2 separate regions of the Homo sapiens genome follow, and region 1 is linked to region 2. The links come from fine-mapping of genetic effects on gene expression. A gene starts in region 2. The other region holds a variant in brackets. All regions are shown on one strand. Distances are between the middles of the regions. Region 1 has its middle 25 kb from the start of LIRIL2R. Region 2 holds the start of LIRIL2R (lincRNA regulator of IL2RA).

What was found. PIP is the estimated chance that this variant, and not a neighbour inherited with it, causes the effect. A credible set is the group of variants that fine-mapping cannot tell apart.
Region 1: its variant is the best candidate, but not a certain one, in a credible set for the expression of LIRIL2R in nucleus accumbens (GTEx, PIP 0.86).

Annotation. Positions count from the first base shown.
Region 1 is chr6:152,895-157,282 of GRCh38, forward strand. No RefSeq gene overlaps it. Among named protein-coding and RNA genes, the nearest start is that of LIRIL2R, 25 kb to the right of the region's middle. RefSeq lists enhancers at 3,249-3,338, 3,379-3,468. The variant C/T (reference allele first, on the strand shown) is at 1,907.
Region 2 is chr6:178,086-182,473 of GRCh38, forward strand. LIRIL2R (lincRNA regulator of IL2RA) reads left to right here and starts at 2,310. Exons shown (of 2, transcript XR_926349.3): 1 at 2,310-4,388. It overlaps LINC03066 (long intergenic non-protein coding RNA 3066), which reads right to left. Exons shown (of 8, transcript NR_126020.1): 7 at 4,281-4,388; 8 at 3,381-3,610.

The DNA of each region.
Region 1 (4,388 bases), 25 kb before region 2:
GAATGCAGTGGAAAGAGAACAGATTAGTTTTTCCTCCTTCAGAACACAACCACTAGAAACATCCTACCTCAGATGAGATATTCCCTAATTATTTTCAAAAGACAGTGAAAAACGATGGATGTAAATGTTTGCTACAAAATAAATACATGGTAGAAACAGAAGCATCTGGGTCACAGCTATATTAGAGCTACCTGTGTTCCCCTGTCACTGAGATTAAAACAAAAATGTCCAATACAATCATTCACAGCATGGGAGAGGGGAAGTTGAAGGGTTAGGAAACGCCAGTCATAAAAGGATTTCAGAATTTCAGTCCATAAGGAAGTGGTTTTGTGCATTGTCTGTTCTTGTGTGCAAGGTGAAGTCTGGAGAACAGAAACGTGCAGTAACAAGGGCTCCTTTGTCCATATCACCTCTCTAGATATCAAGTTTCAGACATGTTGCATTTTAATTGAAAGGTTGATATAATTTTTTGAAAAAGAAAACTTGTGGTGTTTGAAGTGACAAAGACTGCTGTGACAAAAAAGCAGGGAAAGGGAATTTTTTTTAAAAAAGCAAACAACAACAACAAAAACCCACAAAAAAGCAAACAGCAAACAAACAAAAAACAGGGGAAGAAGTCGAAACACCCTGGGTTGTGACTACTTCCAGGAAGGGGCTACAAGAGGCAGTTGGAAATTCTATTTGCTTTGCAACTGTGAGTTTTCCAGCCTGCTCCCTTTCTAAAGTATATTACTCTGCTTTTGGTTCATGAAGTTATCCATTTCTGTTTTCTGGAACAGCTATGTATTTTCTTTATCTATCATCTATCTATCTATTTACCATCTATCTTTTCTACCTTTCGCTATCAAGAGCTTGGGTCAAGCAGGATAGAATTCCAGTGTATGTTCACTCTACCATTTAAAACAAGAGCTCTTGTAGGCATTCTCCATCACATCATAAACCTGAGCTTTCTAAAACAGGGTGTGGCAAACTACCATGCATGGGCCAGGTCTGACACAGTCTGCGTTTGTAAGTAAAGTTGTAATGGGACACAGCCACATACATGTGTTATACAATGTCTCTGGCTACTTTCATGGTATAATGGAAGAGCTGAGTCATTGAGAGAGGGACAACATGGCTTGGAAAACTTGAAATATTTAACATTTAGCCCTTTGCAGAAAATATTTGCTGACTCTTGTTTTAGAAGATCTCTCTTTAGAATGCTACCTATTGCCTTCTGGATAGAATCACAACTCTTTACCACAATCAACACACAGCCCTGCTTTTATTATTTCCACTCCTCCTCCTTATTTTCCTTCTGACAATGCCGATGGATTGTCAGCTTCCCAGATGTGCAAGAATCTCTCCTCCCTTCCCGACATTCTCATGCTCTCCCTCTGCCTCTCAAGAACTTCCTGTCCCATCTCTCATGACAAATCTCTTCTTCATTCTTTAAGATGCAGCCCCTTTGCTCCTTCCTTAAGGATGTCTGTCTGGCTTTATTTTGGGTGACATGCTCCTTCTGCATCTCCCAGAGCCAGCCTCTGTGTGTCAGCTACAGCATTTCTTTGCATCTCTGTGTCATATATCATCAAATCTGCCTAAGCTTGAGTGAGTCACTGCATGACAACTTCAGACTCCACCAGCATTGTCTGCACTAACAACGAGGCTTAGAGATTTGTCCAGTATGCTCGGGGTTGTGGGGTGGTAGCAGTAACCAGCTGGTGAGCATCATCTCTTACATCAGAATGAAATCTGTAGATCTCTGCCATTCATAAGTATTTGGAGCTTAAAATTAGCATAAAGATTTTCCTTAAGAACAAATGGCTTGAGTAGGCTTTTGGAACGTAGGATATTTCTGCTCGTTCATTTCAGCGTTCAGTATTCCCACATGAATCTAAACACGGCTCTGCTCTTAGTAACTGTG[C/T]GACCCTGGGAAAGTCACTCAATCTCCCTCAGCTAAATTTTGTTGTGTGAGTAATGAGAAGAGAGTTGTGGTTTGTATTTAGTGAGTAATAACAAGCAAAAGGCATTTAGCTTTCTGGAACCTGGTATGTAGTAGATCCTCATGAAATACTAGCTCTGTTGATAAAACTAGACTGAAAGAAGCTTTCAAAGTCAACAACAGTATCATGTAGTGACGGACGTAGATGAGAAGCTGCTGCTGCAGCTTGCAGCTCCTGGAGGCCAGTTTTGTCCATGACTTAGCAGGAATGCACTACCTTTCCATGAGGAGACACTGCCCAAAGAAACCAAGGCCATTCTTTGAGGACAAATATGTTTTAATAGCTTTTATATTATGTAATAGTGTAATACAAATACTAATTTATTAATCATAATGTGAAATTATTTACATTGTTATGTTAAGACTTTTGTACAGAAATTTACACCTAGATATTCTGAAGTTGGTGGTCTGTGAGTGGCATCGAGTGATGACTGACACATTCTGACCTGGGGTAGAACAACACGTGTCCCTGCAGTTTGCTGAATTTCAGGGCATCACCACCTTTTTTCAAGAGTGTGTTTTCCTATCCTCTAGAGTTTTGCCCACTTAAGCAATGGCTTTGCTGTAATAAAGAATTACACTATTTATCAAAATATTACTTTGGAGAATACTGGTTCACATAGTTCACTTTCAAGTTTTCTTAAACTATCAGGCCCATAGCTAATGCCAGTGGCTCCAAGGATGAGAAGGTAAAAAGGTCTTTTTTTTTTTTTTTTTTTTTTTTGGCCAAGACAAAAAAACTCCACATTTCAAACTTTACTGTCTCATGCTAGTCCCTGGAAAATTAGAAGTGAACACACTCCCCTCCCAGCCCAATCACAGCTAATGAATAACCAAGATCTCCTGCAGGTGCCTTTGCCTTGGGTTTGTGAGCCTGGAGTTGCTGGTTGGCACTGGGCAGCAGGCAGCAGAGCTGGTCCCATTTCTCCATGCTTTTCCAACTCTGTAGGGGACACAGGCACATTGAACAAACTAGGTCCTGGCCTGGCACTGGCTGGGAAGCTATTTGATGTCAGGCTCAATGTGGACTTCTGAGTTGAAAAGAGAGTATGGGTCACCCAGCCCCACTTACTCATTTTACCAAGAATGAAAATGGGGATCTATTTCAGACATGAGATTACACATTGTAAGACTGTGCAAGCTTGCCACACTTGTATCCGCTCAGCACACACTTTCTGAGTGCCGAGTGTCTCCAGCAGGAGAGGGGCTCTAGTTCCCGGGATCCCACCCTCCACAGAGGACAGCAGCACCTTGAGGGACAGATGTGCAAAGGGCAAGGTGGGGGCCCTTCTGCTGGAGAGGCAGCTGGGGAGGTCCTTAGAGGAAGTGACACCTGAGCTCTTCTCTGAAGGGTGAAGCTGAATTACTTGAAGCTTAGGGTGAAGGGGTGTCCAGGGAAGTGGAGCCTGTGAGCCGAAAGCAAAATGACTTGTCCAGAGAAGTGTAACAAGTTCCATATTGTTTCAGTGCCAAATCTGCACAGGAGTCACCAAACGAAAGAGCAGGATCCTGGAGCCAGGGCATGGGATTTCACCCGCTGGCAATGGGACTGTTCACTGGGAATTCTGGGGGGCAAAACCTGAAAATGTTTCCTCTTAGCTCCAATTCTCTGTCTCTCTGTCTCTCTGTCTCTTTCTGTCCTTCTCTCTTTCCCTTATCTTTAATTTTTTATTATCCTAAGAAAACACAGATGTCTCAGATGTGGGGATTAGCAGCCTGCCTCTTTCTGGATGACTCAGGGGAGCACTTTGGCCTCTGTGAGCTTATTTACAATAATTCACAAATCTTGCCAAAAAGAAAAGTCATGGTAGCAGAGGTTAGAAAACCTCCTAGTATTTCTTCTGATGCTTTGAATTTATGATTAATATGTTTAATCTTCATCTTCTGAAAAGTCACCAGTTGCACAGTGAGGACCATAAAGGTAGTCTGTTTCTGTGGTTTGTGGCTTCAACAGTCAGCGGTTTTGCAGCAATAGCATTGCATGTGGGTTTTAGGCTGATGATGCTCAACAGTGGACAATCCTCTTCACCTGCCTGGGCCCCACTGCCTGCCCTTCCATACAGTGCAGGGTCACAGCTGAGCTCTCTGAGACACCTCGCAGGATCTCGGCTTCTGAACTATCAAGTGTCTTCCAGGTGAAGGCTTGGTCTCATAGCCTTTGTGGCTTCCTCCAGGTAACACTTGGTCTTCTGACCTAACCCTGGTATGTGTGTGACACACATGTGAATGTGCTCCCTGTGGCAGCGCTGAGGAAGGACTCAGTCATCACAGATGCTGAAAGGCAAATGCAGTGTGCTTTTTTCCAACATCTCCAGTCTTGCATTATTTTTACCCATCAGCCCATTTGAAAAAGAAAAAAAAAAAAGTCCCCTGTTAGAATTAAATCCCCTCTGGAGATAATGGG
Region 2 (4,388 bases):
TCTTGAAGTCAGCGAGACCAAGAACGCACCAAAAGGAACCAATTCCGGACACACTAGGAGTGGGGTGCTGGTGGGGCAGGGCACGGGTAGAAGTGAGGTGTGGGTAGGATCAGGGTATGCGTAATATTGAGGTGCTGTTGGAGTGGGCCGTGGGTAGCATGGGGTGCTGGCAGGGCTGGGCGTGGGTAGGAGCGAGGTTTGGGTAGTGGCTGGTGCTGCAGTGGTGAGCCATGGATAGGAGCGGGGTGCGAGTAGGGGCGGGGCTCAGGTGGAGTAGGGTGACTGCTGGGCCAGGCATGTGTAGGATGGGGTGCTGGCAGGGCAGGGCACTGAAAGGAGCAGAGTGTGGGTAAGATTGGGGTTCTAGTGGGGCAAGCATGGGTAGGATAGGGTGCTGCAGGGCGGATAGCAGCCGGGTGCTGCTGGGACAAGCACAGGTAGGAGAAAGGTCCAGGTAGGAGCTAGGTGCTGTGAGGTCGAAAGCAGGTAGTGTGTCCGGAATTGGTTCTTTTTGGTGGGTTCTTGGTCTCGCAGACTTCAAGAATGAAGCCGCAGACCCTCGCGGTTAGTGTTACTGTTCTTAAAGATGGTGTGTCTGGAGTTTGTTCCGTCAGATGTTCAGATGTGTCCAGAGTCTTTTCCTTCTGGTGGGTTCGTGATCTTGCTGACTTCACAGGAGTAAAGCTGCAGACCTTCGCAGTGAGTGTTAACAGCTCTATCAAGGTGGGGCGTCCAGAGTTGTTTGTTCCTCCTGGTGGGTTCATGGTCTGGCTGACTTCAGAATAGAAGCCGCAGACCTTCGCAGTGAGTGTTACAGTTCTTCAAGGTGGTGCGGACCCAAAAAGTGAGCAGCAGCAAGATTCACTGTGAAGAGTGAAAGAACAAAGCCTCTGCAGCATCGAGGGGTACCCAAGCAGGTTGCCACTGCTGGCTCGCATGGCCAGCTTTTCCCTTATTTGGCCCTGCCCATGTCCTGCTGATTGGTCCATTTTACAGAGAGCTGATTGGTGCGTTTTTACAGAGTGCTGATTGGTGCATTTACAAACCTTTAGCTAGACACAGAGCACTGATTGGTGCATTTTTACAGAGTGCTGATTGGTGCACTTACAAACCTTTAGCTAGACACAGAGTGCTGATTGGTGCGTTTTTACAGTCTGCTGATTGGTGCATTTACAAACATTTGGCTAGAGGGAAAAGTTCTCCAAGTCCCCACCCAACCCAGAAGCCCAGCCGGGCTTCACCTCTCAGTAGGAGCGGGGTGCAGGTAGGATCAGGGTGCTGGAGGGGCATGGGAGGGTAGGACAGAGTGCGGTAGTGAGAGGTGACAGAGTGCTGGCAGCCCTCACTCGCTCTCGGTGCCTCCTCGGCCTCGGCGCCCATTCTGGCTGTGCTTGAGCAGCCCGTCAGCCCAGCGCTGCACCGTGGGAGCCCTTCTCTGGGCTGGCCGAGGCAGGAGCCGGCTCCCTCAGCTTGCGGGGAGGTGTGGAGGGAGAGGCAGGGGCAGGAACTGGGGCTGCGCATGGCACTTGTGATCTAGCTAGAGTTCCGGGTGGGCGTGGGCTTGGCGGGTGGGCGTGGGCTTGGTGGGCCCCACACTCAGAGCTGGCTGGCCGGCCCCACCAGCCCCAGACAGTGAGGGGCTTAGCACCCGGGCCAGCAGCTGTGGAGGGTGCTCTGGCTCCCCGAGCAGTGCCGGCCCACCGGTGCTGCGCTCAATTTCTCACTGGGCCTTAGCTGCCTCCCCACGGGGCAGGGCTCGGGACCTGCAGCCCACCATGCCTGAGCCTCCCCCCAGCCGCCGTGGGTTTCTGAGCAGCCTGAGCCTGCCCAAGGGGTGCCGCCCCCTGCTCCACAGCACACAGTCCTATCGATGCTTAAGGGCTGAGGAGTGCTGGTGCGTGGTGTGGGTGTGCAGTGTGGGACTGGCGGGCAACTCTGCCCACGGCCCCAGCGCAGGATCCACTAGGCAAAGCCAGCTGGGCTCCTGAGTCTGGTGGGGACTTGGAGAACTTTTATGTCTAGCTACAGGATTATAACACCAATCAGCACTCTGTGTCTAGCTAAAGGTTTGTAAACGCACCAATCAGTGCTCTGTGTCTAATCTAGTGGGGACTTGGAGAACTTTTGTGTCTAGCTAAAGGATTGTAAATGCACCAATCAGCACTCTGTGTCTAGCTCAAGATTCCTAAATGCACCAATCAGCACCCTGTCAAAACGGACCAATCAGCTCTCTGTAAAATGGGCCAATCAGCAGGATGTGGGTGGGGTCAGATAAGGGAATAAAAGCGGGCTGCGGAGGCAACCGTGGTAAGCTGTGCTTGCATCATGTTTGGAAACTGTCGTACTGCGCGAAGCTTTGCAGCTTCCCTCCTTAAAGGCAGTGAGATGGCAAACCCACTGGGAGGAATGAGAAACTCCAGGCGCACCACCTTAAGAGCTCGTGACACTCACTACAAAGGTCTGCAGCCACTCCTGAAGCAAGCGAGACCACAAACCCACCAGCAGAAAGAAACTGAACACGTCCAAACATCTGAAGGAACTAGCTCCAGACACACCATCTTTAAAAACTGTCACACTCACTGTGAAGGTCTGCGGCTTTATTCTTTTAGTCAGTGAGACCAATTCCAGACACAAGACCATCTCATCTCAAGAGACCAGGACGTCCGGGCACCCCTAGAATGTAGCTGCTGGCAGAGCCTGAAGTCTATCCAGCTCATGCTCTTCCCTGATATCCTTGACAGATTGTGGGATGGTTCAGCCTCTGCAAGGACATGGCCAATGATGGGGGGCTGGTTTTGGGGGCAGCACTCTAGGCAAGGGAAGAAATAAAGTGTCTGGGAACTGGCGTGGTGAAGGGGCACTTTGTGGAGAAGATGTGTTCACATTTGGATGTGTCGAGGGTGGAATGATATGAGGAAAGTCAAAGGGTGCCCACCCCCAGAGCCTAGGTGTGGGCACAGCACTGCACCACGCCTTAGGGGAGATTGGACTCTGGGCAGAGATCCCAAGAGAAGCAGGAGTTGGAGTCTTGGGGGCCAGTGTGATAGGGAACTAACTTTACTTTAAAGCCAATTTGTCAGTAAGAAAAAACGAGGTGCACCTTGTAGGAGAAAAAGTCACAAGCTTGGTGTGCTTGAAGTCACAAGCCTTGCTGTGCTTGGTGAGAGGGATCCCGAGTGTACTTGAGGCACTCTCCTGTTTAAAAGGGGAACGGTGGTTTTCTTTTCTCAGTGTAGGTTAGTGTAAAAAATCTGCTTTGTAATTGCATAAGGTCTCAGCACAAACAAAATCACAGAAAATGTGAAATGTATTATAACAGTCAACTTGCTTAGAATGTAGTTGAACCTGCATGCAGTATTGAGACACCAGACAACTGTTTTCAGTCTCCACATTTCTTTCATTTCCTTTATGAAAGTTACATTAAGAAAAAAAATAACTCCCTTGAGTATTCTGATATTTTCGGTGAGTGAAACAGTAATCTCAGCAAAGTTCAATCTTGGTATCAGACAGAATTTCAGGTTGTTTCATCTAATTGCCACTTAATACCAAAGACATGATGTTTATTAGCATGTATTTCTAATGAGAAACTATTATAGTCGTCCTCAATTGTCTGAAATATGAAGCGGAAAAAGAAAATTATGAGCCCCAGATACCAGACCAGTTGCTGATCAGATAGAATATCGTGGTTCCAGCATATTATGAAATAAAAATTCAAAGACTGAATACCATGCAAAAGGTCAATATTCGGCAGCATCTGAGAAGTCATACATCTAGATAGACCTAAACTATAAGTGCAGAAGTGCTACAGTAAACTATATGGGCTTTCTACTAAGTACTGGCTAATTTTAAAACATACTGAAATTTATGTACATTAGTCTTTGTTATAAGAATTGAGAATCCGCATTGTATTATAAAGTTGATCTACAACAGTCACTTTATTATAAAATATTTTCGGCCTGGCGCGTTGGCTCACACCTGTAATCCCAGCACTTTGTGAGGCCGAGGCAGGCAGATCACCTGAGGTTGGGAGTTCAAGACCAGCCTGACCAACATGGAGAAAACCCCATCTCTACTAAAAATACAAAATTAGCCGGGCGTGGAGGCAGGTGCCTGTAATCCCAGCTACTCCGGAGGCTGAGGCAAGAGAATCGCTTGAACCTGGGAGGCGGAGGTTGCAGTGAGCCAAGATCTCACCATTGCACTCCAGCCTGGGCAACAAGAGTGAAACTCCATCTCAAAAAAAAAAAAAAAAAAAAATTCACCAGAAGGAAAGTGCTTACCTATTTGAACAACTCTGTACGGGTCTATACAGTATTCCAAGGCTCTTCAATAAGCACATGGTGATGACCCAGGTCAGTCGTGGCAAGGTTGGGGAATTAGAACAAACC